2 separate regions of the Homo sapiens genome follow, and region 1 is linked to region 2. Evidence: fine-mapped expression QTL. A gene starts in region 2. The other region holds a variant in brackets. All regions are shown on one strand. Distances are between the middles of the regions. Region 1 overlaps STK10 (serine/threonine kinase 10). Region 2 holds the start of STK10 (serine/threonine kinase 10).

What was found. PIP is the estimated chance that this variant, and not a neighbour inherited with it, causes the effect.
Region 1: its variant is fine-mapped to the expression of STK10 in whole blood (TOPMed, PIP above 0.99).

Annotation. Positions count from the first base shown.
Region 1 is chr5:172,057,033-172,065,359 of GRCh38, forward strand. STK10 (serine/threonine kinase 10) reads right to left here. Exons shown (of 19, transcript NM_005990.4): 13 at 7,688-7,780; 14 at 4,107-4,236; 15 at 317-441. Among named protein-coding and RNA genes, the nearest start is that of FBXW11, 55 kb to the left of the region's middle. The variant C/A (reference allele first, on the strand shown) is at 4,035.
Region 2 is chr5:172,184,709-172,193,035 of GRCh38, forward strand. STK10 (serine/threonine kinase 10) reads right to left here and starts at 3,516. Exons shown (of 19, transcript NM_005990.4): 1 at 3,179-3,516. The coding sequence starts at 3,334. RefSeq lists enhancers at 249-298, 1,339-1,388, 1,659-1,708, 2,369-2,448, 3,501-4,276 and silencers at 2,909-2,988, 3,119-3,168, 3,469-3,828.

The sequences.
Region 1 (8,327 bases), 130 kb before region 2:
GAAAGAAAGAAAGAAAGAAAAGAAGAAAGGGAAAAAAAAGAAAAGAAAGAGACATACACAGCAAGTAACAGTCAGTGAGGGAGCCACTTGGGCCATTGGCTTCCCTGCATCGTTTCCCCTATTCCTAGCCCCTTGAGCTGAAGCAGGACGCCCCTGGAGAACCTCCTGGGGCCTCACTGCAGCCAGCCCTGGCTCCTCTTGGGGGCACTTGTCATCCAAAGTGTGCACCCAAGAGGTGCCCCATCACATACAGCCTCATGGCTCTCCCAGGTCGGCCCGGCAGCAGATCCGAGCCCCGTGCCACCGGCAGCCTCACCTTCTCATGCTTGCGCAGCAGCTCGTGCCGCTGGAGGAAGTACTGGTCTTTGAGCTGCTGCTTCACCAGCTGGTGCCTCTCCTGCAGCTGGTGCTCTTCCATCTCCCACAGGGCTGCTTCCCGGTCTGCAGAGGACATGCCACCGAGCTGGTGAGGTGCTGACAACCAGAGACTCGACAGGCCCCCTGCCCCCCACCTCTGCCTGGCCTCCTCATGCTGGAGATGATAACCAACCTGCTGGGCTCAGGAATTGCCACATGTTCTACCTCATTAGACCATGTTGGCTGATCTGAGCTGAGGCCTAGAAACTTCCTTTAAGCCTAAGGAATGAGAGCTCCCAGGAGCATGGTATAGCAGGAAGTATTCAAAGTCAGGAGCCACAGAAACTGCAGCTATAGGCTGGAACCCAGCTCCATCGGTGGGATTAGGAATGGAGAGGTTCTCTAGGCATCAGCTGCCATGTCTGCCAGATGGACACAGCTATACCATGGAGGGAGGGGACGTCCTTGGGAGAAACTTTGAAGTGCAAAGTTTCCACACTGCATCTCTACCTTCCTGATGGGCACCTGGGAAGAGCTCAGATGGAGACCCCATGAAGAAGACAGAATGGCCTCTTGTCACTATTTCCTCCTTTGAAAAATGGGTGAGATCCTCCTTGTCTCCTGCACGTCCCAGGCATGCGTTATGAAGACAATGAAGATACTGGCATCTTAACACTGGAGGTCTATTAATCCACCCCTGTGCACAGCACCCGGGTGGGGACCTGGGGTCAAAGGGAGAATCTCACGCCCTTCGAGACAGGAGATTATGCTTGGCTCAGTGCGAATGTTGTTTATTTCACTGCATTCCTGTTCCGTGCAAAATGGTATCTGCTTTTGGTATATCAGAATAGTGATTCTGGCTTCCACCCCAAAATCAGAACCACAGTTCTGTAAATAGGACGGTTCTTACCAACATCATGGGATAGGAAAAGGAAGTGAGGGCTTTTCTCAAAACAACTGTGCTCTATTCAGAATATTGAAAACTCAAGAACCCTGTTTTGCTGATCCACATCAAATAATAAGAGGTTTATCTTGCTTAACTGCACTGGTCATCAAAGGCCTGGATGAGGCCTGTTTTATAAATGAGCCAAAAATTGCCCTGGGATATTGGCCTCGTGTTGTTTACTTCCTCACAGCAGGCTTGGACCGTCAAAAGTCCACAGGCACCAAACTCAAATTTGTACCCATCCTCTTGTTATTTTTAAAACATAATATGTACGGCCAGGCACAGTGGCTCACACCGTAGTCCCAGCATTTTGGGAGGCTGAGGTGGGCAGATCGCTTGAGCCTAGAAACCTGAGACCAGCCTGGGCAAAATGGCGAAACCCAGTCTCTACTAAAAATATAAAAATCAGCTGGGTGTGGTGGTGTGCACCTGTAATCACAGCTGCTCAGGGGCCTAAGGCATGAGAATTGCTTGAACAGGGGAGGCAGAGGCTGCAGTGAGCCAATATCGTGCCACTGCACTCCAGCCTGAGTGACAGAGTAAGACTTGGTCTCAAAAAACAAAAACAAAAAAAATGTATATAGTTACATAAAAAAGCTCAAACAGGGCCAGGCGCGGTGGCTCATGCCTGTAATCCTAGCACTTTGGGAGGCCGACGCAGGCAGATCACAAGGTCAGGAGATTGAGACCATCCTGGCTAACACGGTGAGACCCCGTCTCTACTAAAAATACAAAAAAAAAAAAATTAGCTGGGCATGGTGGCGGGCGCCTGTAGTCCCAGCTACTCAGGAGGCTGAGGCAGGAGAATGGCGCAGTGGCTCACACCTGTAATCCCAGCACTTTGGGAGGCCAAGGCAGGTGGATTGCTTAAGGTCAGGAGTTCAAGACCGGCCTGGCCAACATGGTGAAATCCCATCTCTCCTAAAAATATAAAAAATTAGCTGGACATGGTGGCGCAAAGCTGTAATCATCCCAGCTATGAAGGAGGCTAAGGCAGAAGAACTGCTTGAACCTGGGAGGTGGAGGTTGCAGTGAGCTAAGATTGTGCCACTGCACTCCAGCCTGGATGACACAGTGAGACAGCGAGACTCTCCATCTCAAAAAAAAAAAAAAAAAAAAAAGCTCAAACCAAGCAGATATTTAGCCATTTGGAGCCTGCCTACTTTGCATACCCCATGAAACTGCACCTAACATCTGCCAGCCATAGAGATGGAAGACCCAAGGGCTCCATAAAGACCCCAAGCCACCGTTGCCCTTTGCAGTTCTCTGACCCAGAGACGCCCCGTCTGAGCTCCCCACGCTGGACGACATCATCTAGACATGTGAGCCCCCTCTCAGTCCCCTTCTTGCCCAAGAGTTCCTTTGCCCTCTTCCCCTGCTGGATGGTGGCCCGCACCATCATCTCCAGAAAGCCTCATTCTGTAAGGGACCCCCTCAGCGTGTCAACTTGTCAAAATGCCCCCCAAGCAAAGCTGCTGGTATGCTACTGCCATCTTGTGGTCATTTATTTTTCCTCAATCAGCCCAGAAATCCCTTGAACTCCCAACAGCACCAGGGTAGGCCCGGCTTCCTGATATTGTCATCCAAGGCCCAGCTCTATCACCCATTAACTGTGCAACCTCAGTGCTATGATCTAAACGTTTGTGTCCCCTCCCCAAATGTGTATGTTGGAATCTTAACCCCTGAGGTGAGGGTATTAGGAGATGGGGCTTTTTGGGAGGTGATTAGGTCATGAGGGTGGAGCCCTCGTGAATGGAATTAGTGCCTTTTTATTAATAAAAGAGACCCCAGGCTGGGCACGTTGGCTTATGCCTCTAATCCCAGCACTTTGGGAGGCTGAGACAGGCAGACCACTTGAGCCCAAGACTTTGAGACCAGCCTGGACAACACAGAAGACCCCATTTACACAAAAAACACAAAAATTAGCCAAGCGTGGTAGCACGTGCCTGTAGTCCCAGCTACTTGGGAGGCTGAAGTCAGAGGACTGCTTGAGCCTCAGAGGCAGAGGTCACAATGAGCCATGACTGTGCCACTGCACTCCAGCCTTGGCTACAGAGCTAGACCCTGTCTCAATAAATAAATAAATAAACAAAAATCCCCAAAACCCAAAAAACCACAAAACCCCAAAAACCCAGAGACCCCAGAGCTAGTCTCCCTTCCACTATGTGAGGATACAGTGAGAAGGTGCCATCTATGAAGCAGAGAGTAAGTCCTCTCCAGACCACAAATGTGCTGGCACCCTGACTGTGGATTTCCCAGCCTCCAGAAGTGTGGGAAATGAATGTCTGTTGTTGATAAGCCACCCAGTCAGTGGTATTTTGTTACAGCAGCCTGAATGAACTAAGATACTTGGCCAAAGAATAGTAACTCTCCAAGCCTCAGTTTCCTCATCTACAGAAATGGGGATAACCTAGGCCCTGCCTCACAGTGTTAGGTGAGGATTTGATGAGATAAAGGTAGAAAAATGGACTGGCACATGGCCTGGCAGAGTGGTTGCTCAGTCCACGCCAAGCTCTCTCCACCTCCCGTAAATCCAGCTCACTTATTAACATACTCTGCCTGTTTCTTTCTTTTCTTCTCTTGACTTCTGGAATAATCTCAAATAGTCTTGGTGACAACTGGTGTCCTTACCTCGTTCCTTACTTCAAGTGGGGCTTTTCCCCAGGTTTCCCCATGAAGAATGATGTTTAGTTTTGGGGATGGAGAAGGCCTGGGAGGTTCTTGTTGCCCA[C/A]CCCACTTCCCAGGGCTGGGATGTCCACAGCGACTCTGGGCCAAGACAGCGCTGCCACTTGCACACCCCCACCTCGAAGGAGCTCCTGCTTCTTCATGAGGCACTCGCGCTCCTTGTCACAGATCTCCCGCCTGTTGTCGGTGGTGAGCCTCTTCATGGCCAGCTCCAGGTCCTCCTTCTGCTTGGCTACAAAGTCCCGGTCCTGTGGGGAGAGAGGAGGACAGGCCTTTATCCAGAGCCGGCTTGGGCACCTCCATGTCTCTTCCTATTATGGGAGAAAAGCCCGCGTGATCAGAGAAGAAAATGCAGGAACAGAAAAGAAATTGGTGGAGGAGAAATTTAAGGGAGACTTAGAGACGCATCAACCAATTTCAACATGTGGGCTTCATCTGGATCCTGGATCAAAGAACAGTCTCGGTCTGTCACCAGAGCTGGAGTGCAGTGGCATGATCTCGGCTCACTGCAACCTCTGCCTCCCGCGTTCAAGTGATTCTCCTGCCTCAGCCTCCTGAGTAGCTGGGATTATAGGTGAGCACCACCACTCCTGACTAATTTTTGTATTTTTAGTAGAGACGGGGTTTCACCATGTTGGTCAGGCTGGTCTCAAACTCCTGACCTTGTGATCTGCCTGCCTCGTCCTCCCAAAGTGCTGGGATTACAGGAGTGATTGGAAACTGGAATACTGACAACATGACGTTGTTCAGCAATTATTGTTGAATTTGCTAGGTGTGTTTATGGTATGGTAGTTATTTCTGTGATGTTTGACAGGTAAAATAATATGATGTCTGGGATTTGATTAAAAAGAATACCTTGGGGTCAGGGAGTGAATGAGTGGACATGAGGTGATATTACTGAGATTAGGTGACAGGTATATGGTAGTTCATTATACCTATTCCCATGTTACTTTTCTTTTTTCTTTTTTTTTTTTTGAGAGAGAGTCTCGCTCTGTCACCCAGGCTGGAGTGCAATGGCGTGATCTCAGCTCGCTGCAACCTCAGCCTCCCAGGTTCAAGTGATTCTCCCATCTCAGCTTCCTGAGTAGCTGGGACTACAGGTGCACACCACCACACCTGGCTAACTTTTGTATTTTTAGTAGAGACGGGGTTTCACCATGTTGGCCAGGCTGGTCTTCAACTCCTGGCCTCAAGTGATCCACCCGCCTCGGCCTCCCTATTCCTGTGTTTTTAATTTTCCATAATAAAGGGTAAAAAAAATTAAAATAAAAAAATTTAGAAACCACGGAATTAGTAAAACTCTCCACTCATCTTATCCCCCAGAGTTGGCAGCTGCGGTAGGTATGTCTATACAAGTGTATCTATAGCTATTGTTATTGCTGTGTTACAAAAATTATTAAAAAGGGCTCAAAGAGATATGTGTGCACCCAAGTTCACAGCAGCATTATTCACAACAGTCAAGGGATGAAAACAGCCCACGTGTCCGTCGATAGATAAATGGATAAATCATGTGTTATATCCACACAATGGAATATTATTCAGCCTTAAAAAGGAAGGAAATTCTGACACATGCAACAACATGGATGAACCTTGAGGACATTACGCTAAGTGAAATAAGCCAGTCACAAAAGGACAAATATTCTATGATTCCACTTACATGAGGTACCTAGAGTAGTCAAATTCATAGGGAAAGCAGAATAAAGTTACCAAGGGTTGGAGGAGAAGAAATGGAGAATTACGGTTTGATGGGTGCAGAGTTTCAGTTTTACAAGACAAGAGAGTTCTGGAGATAGATGGCGGAGATGGCCGCACAATGTGAATAGGCTTAACGCCACTACACTGTACACTTAATAATGGTAAAGATGGTAAACTTTATGTTATGACTATTTTACCACAATTTTAAAAAATTATTTTAAGAAATCTTTCCATGTTATAATGTGATCTTCTGGCCAGGTGCAGTGGCTCATGCCTGTAATCCCAGCACGTTGGGAGACTGAGGCAGGCGGATCACCTGAGGTCAGGAGTTCGAGACCAGCCTGGCCAACATGGTGAAACCCTAACTCTATTAAAAATACAAAAATTAGCTAGGCGTGATGGCAGGCACCTGTAGTCCCAGCTACTTGGGAGGCTGAGGCAGGAGAATTGCTTGAACCCAGGAGGCAGAGGTTGCAGTGAGCTGAGATCGTGCCACCGCACTCCAGCCTGGGCAACAGAGTGAGACTCCATCTCAAAAAAGAAAAAAAAAAAACTGGGATGAAACTCCCAGTTTTGAAACTCCGTCTCAGATAAATAAATAATGTGATCTTCTATCACATGTGTTTGAATGGCTGAAAATATTTCATGCTATGGATGTTATTTATCCAATAAACAACAGGGTGTCTCTAGGTTTTATCTATTTTAAATAGCGCTACTTCATATTCTGGTAGCTAAGTATTTGTGAACCTCTGTGATAACTCCTTCAGGATTTTCAGATTCCCTCAGGATTTCTAGAAGCAGAAAATCCAAGCCAAAGGATGTGTACATCTTCAAAGCTCTCCATGCAACTGCCTCCTCCAGGCCAATCTGCTGTCCCTCTGCGTGGATGAGGGCCTGTGTGCCCCGCCCTCACCAGTCCTGCGTTCTCTTCCTAATCGTGCTGTAATGGGACAGACAGGTCATAGGGTGTCCCGGAGAGAACACAAGCTTGAGGCCTCGACCCCCTCCCTGAATGTGAACTCAGCAATGTTACCTCTCTCAGCCTTTGTTTCCTCTTCTGCGAATGGGAAAATGAACAGCTCCTACCATAGTAAGCTATGAATGCTGAAGCAGGTAATATACAAAGCATTTCTAAATATGGACTCAAAAATTCTTTGCTTTGGGGGCTGAGGAAGCAGAACACACAAAGACCCCCTCGTGGGGGAAAATAGGAGCATTCCGGCAAAGGATGAAAAGAAGGCTGGGGAGGCCGGCCAGGGCACAGCAAAGAGGCGGCGCTTATCTTAGGGACAATGTGGGAGCCACTGAAGGGTTTTAAGGCACAGGGCTGTGGGGGGAAGGGTGCTATTATCAGACTTGGAATTCACATTGATCACACGCAGGCAGGAGAGAAGAAACTGCAGGGGAAAAACAGCTACAGGAAGCCTCGCTGGGAGGCCACTGGACAGTGGCTGGGGGATCATGGAGATGGTGACGAGTTCATAGATCCAGAGACAGGAGATAAGAAATATACATACCATGCTTCTGGAGGTGACGAAGGACTGGAGGGAAAGGAGGCGTCAGGAATGATGGGCCAGAAAGGAAGGAAAATGGCACCCCCTCAGAGCATAACAGGACCAGGTCTGGGACATCACAAGTTTGATGTCCTTCAGACTTAAAAGATGCCAAGTGGGCAGGGGAATATACTGGGTTGGTCAAGGAGATGTGACTTACAAATAAATAACCCTAAAACAAGGTAGGAGGTGCTAAGGGTTTGGGAGGTGGTCAATGTAAAGTGTTGGGGTATCCAGAGATGGAAGAGCTTACTTCCAGATGGAGGCAGGGCAATCGAGGAAGGCTGCATGGAGGAGGGGATAATGGGGCCATGAAGGATGAGGCCAGATTTAGGTATTCAGAACGGGGTATTTGAGGGGCAGGGATTGGGCAAAGGCAGAGAGGGGGCCTGGTCACCATTCCAGGTCTCGCACCAGCCCCTGCGCTCCCCAGCTGAGGCCAGGGACTCACAAGAAGCTGCTTTTTCTGCGTGTGCTCCTCCATCTTCTGCTTCATGCTTTCCTTCCGCTGCTGTCGGGGGAGCTTCTCCACCTCGTTCTTCACCTGCAGCAGAGACAGCAGAGAGTAGCTGGGTCAGGGTCCTCTCCATGCTTCCTACAGTATAATCTTCAACGCAGAACCCCCGGGCCAGAGAAACCAAAGAAGAGGCTCAGCTTTGCAGCGGCCAGCACCCTACGCGGCTCCCCACCAAGCCCCTCTGAGCAGGTGCTCCACACTGGCCTACTCCTGCCTGCCGCTGGTTTCAGCTTCCAACTCCCCCAGAGTGGGCAGGTGCTGTTTTCAGCAGCTTGGTATCCACCCCCCTCTTCTGGTAACAGCACCTCAGTTTCCTGCAGGGAAGTGTTTCTCAACCTTTTTAAAAAATTACAGTCCCTACAGAAGTTCTTTTAGACATTTTTCCCTAATCCCTCTCCCCCCATGAAATACTAGTCCAACAGACAATATCGTCAATCTGACAAACCATTGTCATATTTCAGTTATTTTGCTTCCTTTAGGGTAACACTAGCCGGGCTGAAAATGCACTTTTTTTTTTTTTTTTTTTTGAGATGGAATCAAGCAATTCTCCTGCCTAAGCCTTCCAAGTAGCTGG
Region 2 (8,327 bases):
CGGCATGATCTCAGCCCACAGCAACCTCCGCCTCACGGGTTCAAGCAATTCTCCTGCCTCAGCCTCCCGAGTAGCTGGGATTATAGGGCACGCGCCACCACACCCGGCTAATTTTTTTATTTTTTTATTTTTAGTAGAGGTGGGGTTTCACCATGTTGCCCCAGCTGGTCTCAAACTCCTAACCTCAAGTGATCCACCCGCCTCGGCCTCCTGAAGTGCTAGGATTACAGGCGTGAGCCACAGCACCTGGCCCTGGAGTCACTTTTTTAAAAACTGACTTTCCACGTGCTTTGGAGAACCAAGAGGAGACAGTATCGATTGTGGATCGGATGAGTTCCTTTGTATGAAACTTTCAGAGTAGCAGGGGAGTCTTAAGGGACTAAAGCAGGAGGAAACACAACTGAAAATGACAAGGGGAAATCTTACCAGCATGAAAGCAAAGTTCTGCGTTTAAGTTTAAAGGAAGATGAACCCTGTGAAGCCAGGACACACTGCGGGGAAGGGGACAAGAATGCAATTGAAAGCCCCTAACGGAGAAAAAAAAAAGCCCATATGTTTGTTTTGTTTTGTTTTGTTTTTGAGACAGAGTCTCGCTCTGTCGCCAGGCTGGAGTGCAGTGGCGCTATCTCAGCTCACTGCACCCTCCACCTCCCTGGTTCAAACGTTTCTCTTGCCTCAGCCTCCTGAGACGCTGGGATTACGGGCATGCATCACCATGCCCGGCTAATTTCTGTATTTTTAGTAGAGACAGGGTTTCACCATGTTGGCCAGTATGGTCTGAATTTCCTGACCTCATGATCTGCCTGCTTCAGCCTCCCAAAGTGCTAGGATTACAGGCGTGAGCCACCACGCCCGGCCCAAAAAACCCATATGTTTAGCATACGCTAAAAACACCAACTGAACCTTCTGGAGAAAGTGGGTCCTGTGGTGAGCTGACCACAGGGGTCCAGCTGCCCTCACAGTAGTCAGAGCACAGCTGCAGGAGCAGGCTCTGTCTAAGGCAGTCAAGGACACTGGCAGTGTCCAGAGACAGTTGCAAGGCTGAGGATCGTTCTCTGGTGCCACCAGGAAGAAGATGCAGCTCTGAGGAGAGTAAAGAAAAGACGTGCTGAGGACAGGGTGAGCTGGCTGCCCTCAAATATGGGCAAGGCCCTCAGGCAAAGGAGGACAGCAAGTCGGGGCAGTCCAAAAGCACTGCCTCTCGGATCACAAGACCTCTCCCTACCCCATAACAGGAAGTGTGGGCTCAGAGGGGAGGTGGCAAGGAAACAAAACAGGCACCAGGCCAGGCACAGTGGCTCACGCCTGTAATCCCAACACTTTGGGAGGCCGAGGTGGGTGGATCAACTGAGGTCAGGAGTTCGAGACCAGCTTAGACAACATGGTGAAACCCCGTCTCTACTAAAAAAACAAAAATTAGCCAGGCATGGTGGTGTGTGCCTGCAATCCCAGCTACTTGGGAGGCTGAGGTAGGAGAATTGCTTGAACCCAGGAAGTGGAGGTTGCAGTGAGGGCCGAGATCAAACCACCGCACTCCAGCTTGGGCAATAGAGTGAGACTCCGTCTCACAAAAAATAAAAATAAAAAAAGACACTGAGTGGGCCTGGTTGGTCTCAAAATTGCCACCGCTCCAGGTCAGGCAGGGTGGCTCACCGCTGTAATCCCAACACTTTGGGAGGCTGAAACGAGCTGATTTCATGAGCTCAGGAGTTCATGACAAGCCTGGGCTACGTGGCGAAACCCCAAGTCTACAAAAAATACAAAAATTAGCCGGGCTGTGGTGTGCACCTGTAGACCTAGCTACTCCGAAGGCTGAGGCAGGAGAATTGCTTGAGCCCAGGAGGCAGAGGTTGCAGTGAGCCGAGATCGGGCCACTGCACTCCAGACTGAGCAACAGAGGGAAACCCTGTCTCAAAAAAAAGAAAAGAAAAAAGAAAAAACGCCACCACTCCAAGCCTCTAGGGCAGTACTTCTCAAACCTATTTGCTTAGGAATCACCTGGGATCTTATTAAAACGTAGACTCTAATTCAGCAGGTCGGGGCTGGGCATGAGATTGTTCACTTCTGACAAGCTCCCAAATGATGCTATTATAACACCGGTCATCTAGGAACTACTTCGGTAACTAGGCGATAGACCACTTCCAAGTCAGAGGAGAAGGCCTGGAGAAGCCTTCTCTGTGGTCCAGCCTCATAGAACGGCAATCCTAGGGTCAGAGTGCCCTACAAGCTACAGGAGCCCCAAGGAGGAGGATAGTGGCTTAGAAGAGAGGTGCTCTCCTGGAGGTATACACCAATTTAACAAGTGGGCGTCTCCCAGTAAAAATTTTCTTAGGGGAAAGGGGGGAGTCAAGCTGTAGGTGTTGGCTCCCTAAAACAACTCACCACCTCAGAATTAGCTCCCAGGAGCAGAAACCAACGTCCTGCTGCCACACTTCTCTAGACTCAATCAGCTCTGCCCCACCCACTCCACAAAAGCTCTCTGCCGCGTCTTCCTCTAGGGGAGAGGTGACTGCAGGCTGGGAGACTCCCCAGCTGTGACTCAGACCGACGGAATCAAATCTGTTCCCCCAGGCTCAGCATTCACCAGATCCTGACCTCCCCCTCTGACCAGCCCCAACCCACCTTTCCAAGCCCCACCTCTCAGTCCATGGGCCACCCCTCGCCCACCCCACTTCCCTGTCTCTGGCTCATCTTCAGATGTGTCCCTAGCTCCCAACCCGTCCAAGCGCAGCCGAGTTTCTCGGTCCACATCGCCTCGATATTCCCACAGCATCTGTGGTCTCTCTTAAAAAAAAAAGTGTGCCCGTATCGCCGTTTTACGGAACGTCCCTGGAAGGTCCCTCGAGTGGCCCTCTCGGATGCTGAGGTCCTGTCAACGCCCCTTTGTCTCCCCGTGCGGCGCCGAGCGCAGTGCAGGACACACAGGAAGTGCTCCGAAACAGGGCTAGGGTGGGGGCGGCAACCGTGCCCGGAGGGGGCGCCCAGAGCGCAGGGACTCGGCCGGGCCGAGTGATGTTCCCCCCAAAAAACAAGAGTCATCGGGATGAGGGCCAGGGACCCCGAATTCAGCGCCGGGCAGCCCTCGGAGCCGGAGCCAGGCTGGCCGGGTCCGGCTCAGGCATCCCTTCCTTCCGGAGCCCCTCGACGCGCGTCCGGCCACCCACCTCAGCGCCCTCACCTTGTAAACCTTGCCGAAGGCGCCGTCGCCCAGCTCGCCCACGATCTCCCACACCTCGTTGGGGTCCAGGTCGCGGCGGACGTGCTCATATTCGCGGGACTTTCTCTTCTCGAAGGTAGACAGGCGCAGGATGCGGCGGAAATTGGCAAAAGCCATGGCCGGGGGCGCGGTGGCGCCGGCTCGGGCTCGGGCTCGGGCTCGGGCTGTGGCTTCGGCGGCCGCGAGGAGAAGGAGGAGGAGTTGGAGGACGCCGCGTCTCTCGGGGTTCTCCCCAGACCCGCCTTTCCCCGCAGCCCGACCTCGGTCAAGTGTGCCCTGGGCAGCGCCGCGCCGGGAGCACCCGGAACCGCGCAGGCGGCGGCGTGCCCGCCCCCGCCCCCGCCCTGTCAGGTCCCCAGGGCCGCCTCCCTTGTGCCGGCCTCGCAGCTCCTGCCCGGCCCAGCCCTGCCTGCGAGAGCCTCGGACCCGTTCCAGGGGACCGTCCCCGCGCCCGCCCACCGGCCCGGCTCCACCCGCCGCTCCCCGGCAGAGCCCCGGGACCCCCTAATTGGCTGCGGGCGCTCCCCGGCTCCGCCCGTCGCCGCAGGGCACTCTGGAAACTGTAGTCCCCCCACACCACGCTCCGCGAGCCGCGGGCTGGGCTTTGGGGAAGCTTCGGGGACCGCTCGGTGGGACCGCTCATGGACTCAGGAGCCCGCCCGCCGCGCCGCGTGGCTCCCAAAACTTTTATGGGAGCAAGCGGGACGGCGACTTGGCATTTCGCGAGAGCCCACGGATCGTTGTCAGCGCCCAGAAGGTGAACCTGCACTCGTTCATTTAATCCTCCCGCAGCTATTCCGCTAGGCTGCCCTCGCCCCCACTTTTCCGATGGGGACGCCGGCAGGCGAGGGCACTCGCCCCAGGCACACACGCTGGCTGCCCGTCTGCTGCGGGTTCCTCGGCGCGGTGCTGCCTCCTAGTGTGCGACGGGCAACGCCGGTGCAGCCGCGGCCAGTCCCTGCAGGGCCCGGCTTCCCGGCGCGGTCCTTTCCAGGGGCTCCCCGTCCACGATCCACAAACCTGCCAGGATTAGAGGGCTGGGAGAAAGAGCTCCTTTGGCACTGATTTCTCTTATGTTTCCTGATGGGTTTGCGGATGTATTTGCATATTAAATAAAAACTTTATTCTAATTTTTAATTTCCTAGTTTCAAAAAAGATGAGCGCACTACATACAGATCAAACTAAAGTCTTCTTTGAGCACCTTCATTCTCGATCCTGGCTACTTGAGTCACTTCACTGCTACTGTTGCCTGTTTGTCCTATAGACGGTTATAACATGCTTTTACCTGAATCTAAGGAGAGTGCTGGGGGTGGGGGGGGGGGGCGGGCAGTCTGCAAGGGTTATTATTTGGACCGTGTCATAAACAAGTTGAGTCTTCGCAAATGTCACAGTTCAATAGCTCCAACCCCAGAGAACGGCTGTGTTGAGGTGTTTTCGCCCCTTCCTCGGTGCTTTGTTCGAAAACATCCTTTGAACAGTGTGCAAACACCAAGCATGGTTTTCCACTGGGAAAGCCAGCTCAAGAAGCCTGCGATGCTGGTAGTGGTCGGCGCAGAGGGTGTCCTGGTTGCTAAGCCGTTCGGAATGTTTCCACAGCTGCAGGAGTGCCTGGAATTGTAGAGGGTCTTTAAAAGAAGGAAACGCCGCTCGTCGCTGACCGTTCTCATTGAGTCAGGCGCTGTCTGAACCTCCCAAAACATGCTGAAAGGCAGGTCTTTCATTTGTTTCAGACCATTTGGCCAACTGTACGAAGCGGGTGGGGAGACCAAGAGGGTTGCTTCCATACTAGGAGATGAAGGCTCTGACTCCACGAAAGCTGTAGGCCTGGAGGGCTCTGACCAGCTCTGAGAGCTCCAGAAAAGCAAGCAAGCGAGAGAAAGAGAGAGAGAAAGGAAAGAGAGAAAGAGAGAAAGAAAGAAAGAGAAAGGGAAAGGAAAGGAAGAAAGAGAGAAAGGAAAGAGAGAAAGAGAGAAAGAAAGAAAGAGAAAGGGAAAGGAAAGGAAGAAAGAGAGAAAGAAAAAGGAAAGGAAGAGAAGGAGAGAGAAAGAGGGAGGGAGGGAGGGAAGGAAGGAAGGGAGGGAGGGAGGAAGGAAGGGAAAGAAAAACGGAGAGGTTCATTCATTCAATAACACTAAGTCAAAGAAGCCAGACACAAAAGGCCCTGTGTTCTATAAATTTCCATTTATATGAAATGTCTGGAAAAGGCAAATCCATACAGACAGAAAGTAGATTAATGGTTGCCTGGAGCTGGGTGTGAAATGGGAATTAACTGTACATGAACAATAAACAGTCTAATTGGGGTGATGAAAATGTCCTAAAACTGCACAATGGTGACAATTTCATAATTTGGTAAATTTGCCAAAAATAATTGAATTTTAAACTTTCATTTTTGTAAATGGATGAATTTTATGTGTAAATTATACCTCAATAGCATTGTAAGAAATACATTGAGGTTCAATAGAATCAAAGCTACTTCTTTGAAATAACTAATAGACAAGACTAGTCAAAGAAAAAGAAAAAAAGGGTCGGGCACGGTGGCTCACACCTGTAATCCCAGCATTTTGGGAGGCCAAGCTGGGTGGATCACCTGAGGTTAGGAGTTCAAGACCAGCCTGGCCAACATGGCAAAACCCCAGCTCTACGAAAAATACAAAACTTAGCCGGGCGGGGTGGTGCACGCCTGTAACCCAAGCTACTTGGGAGGCTGAGGCAGAAGAATCACTTGAACCCAGAAGATGGAGGTTGCAGTGAGCCGAGATCGTACCATTGCACTCCATCTAGCCTGAGCAACAGAGCAAGACTCCGTCTCAAAAAAAAAAAGAAAAGAAAAAAAAAAAATTGGTGCAAGAAAGAAATATTCACTGGAAGAAATAAAAAATGAAAAGAGAACATCAGATTAGATACTGTAGAAATTTTGATAATCATAAAGTGATATTTTAGACAAATTTATGTGAATAAATGTTTTAATTTACATAAAATGGGTAATTATTGAGAAGAAAATATAAATGATAGGTAAAAGATAATTTCAATAAGAAATAAAAACCTAAATAAACTAGTAACCAATAAAGAAATCAAATCAAGAATCAGGCCGGGCACAGTGGCTCATGCCTGTAATCCCAGCACGTTGGGAGGCTGAGGCGGGTGAATCACCTGAGGTCAGGAGTTCGAGACCAGCCTGGGCAACATGGTGAAACTCTGTCTCTACTAAAAATACAAAAATTAGTCGGGTGTGGTGGTGCGTGCCTGTGGTCCCAACTACTCATGAGACTCAGGCACAAGAATCCCTTCAACCTAGGAGACGGAGGTTGCAGTGAGCCGAGATCACACCACTGCACTCGAGCCTGGGCAACACAGTGAGACTCTGTCTCTAAACAAAAACAAACAAACAAAAACCCAAAAAACAACAACCACAAAAATCAAGAATCAAAAGCTTGTTCTTGGTGAAAGACATCAGTCTGTGTGGTTTTACAAATAATTTCTTTCTTTATATAAATTATTTTAAAAGATAGAAAATGAAGGAAATCTGCCAATTTATTTTATAAGATGAGTTTTACTATTACTAGATAAGGACAGTAAAAGAAAATTGTAAGCCAGGCACAGTGGCTTACACCTGTAATTCCAGCACTTTGGGAGGCTGAGGTGGGAGGATCACTTGAGCCCAGGAGTTCCATACCAGCCAGAGCTATAAAGTGAGACCCTGTTTCTACAAAAAGTCAAAAAATTAGCCAGGCGTGGTGGTGCACACCAGTGGTCCCAGCTACTCAGGAGGTTGAGGCAGGAGGATTCCTTGAGCCCAGGAGGCCGAGGCTGCAGTGAACAGTGATCTCACCGCTGCACCAGCCTGGTCTCCAGTGAGACCCTGTCTTAAAAAGGAAGGGAAGGAGAGGAAAGAGAGAGAGAGAAAGAAAATTGTAGACTAATTTCATTTCATTTTTTTTTTTTTTTTTTTTTGACAGAGAGAGTCTTGCTGTGTCGCCAGGCTGGAGTGCAATGGTGTGATCTCACCTCACTGCAACCTCCACCTCCCAGATTCAAGCGATTCTCCCGCTTCAGCCTCCCAAGTAGCTGGGACTACAGGAACGTGCCACCACGCCCGGCTAATTTTTGTATTTTTAGTGGAGATGAGGTTTCACCATGTTGGCCAGGATGGTCTCAATCTCTTGACCTCGTGATCCGCCCGCCTCAGCCTCCCAAAGTACTGGGATTACATGTGTGAGCCATCACGCCCGGCCTAATTTCAGTTCTTAAAAAGACAGGGAAAATACAAATGCTAGCAAGATCAAACCAGAGGTGAATAAAAATATCGTAACCACAAAAGGTTTATCCAGGAATAAAAGAATGGTTCTACATCAGAAAATCTACTGTAATAGCACTGCATTGGCAGAGTAAAGGAGAAAAATCACATAGTCTTAATAGTCACAGAAAAAGCATTTTATAGTATTCTTAGGTTGGATTCCCTTAGAGACTGACCCTGAGGCAAGGATTTGAGTGTAAGTGGTTTATTTGGGAGTGAGTAGGGAGTAGAAAATTAAGACAGAGGAGGGGCTGGGCACCATGGCTCACACCTGTAATCCCAACACTTTGGAAGGCTGTGGTGGGAGGATAGCTTGAGGCCAGGAGTTCAAGACCAGCCTTGGCAATGTAGCAAGATCCTATCTCTACAAAAAATACAACGTGGTAGCACATGGGCATAGTCCCAGCTATGAGGAGGTGGAGGTGGGAGGATAGCTTGAGCCTGGGATTCAAGGCTGCAGTGAGGTATGACCATACCACTGCACTCCAGCCTAGGAGACAGAGTGAGATCCTGTCTCAAAAAAAAAAAAAAGAAAAAAGAAAAAAAAAATTAATGTCAGGGCACAGTGGCTCATACCCGTACTCCCAGCACTTTGTGAGGCCAAGGCGGGTGGATCACTTGAGGGCAGGCATCAAGACCACCCTGGCCAACATGGTTAAACCTCATCTCTACTAAAAATACAAAAATTGGGCTGGGTGCAGTGGCTCACGCCTGTAATCTCAGCACTTTGGGAGGCCGAGGCAGGCGGATCACAAGGTCAGGAGATGAAGACCATCTTGGCTAACACGGTGAAACCCGTGTCTACTAAAAATACAA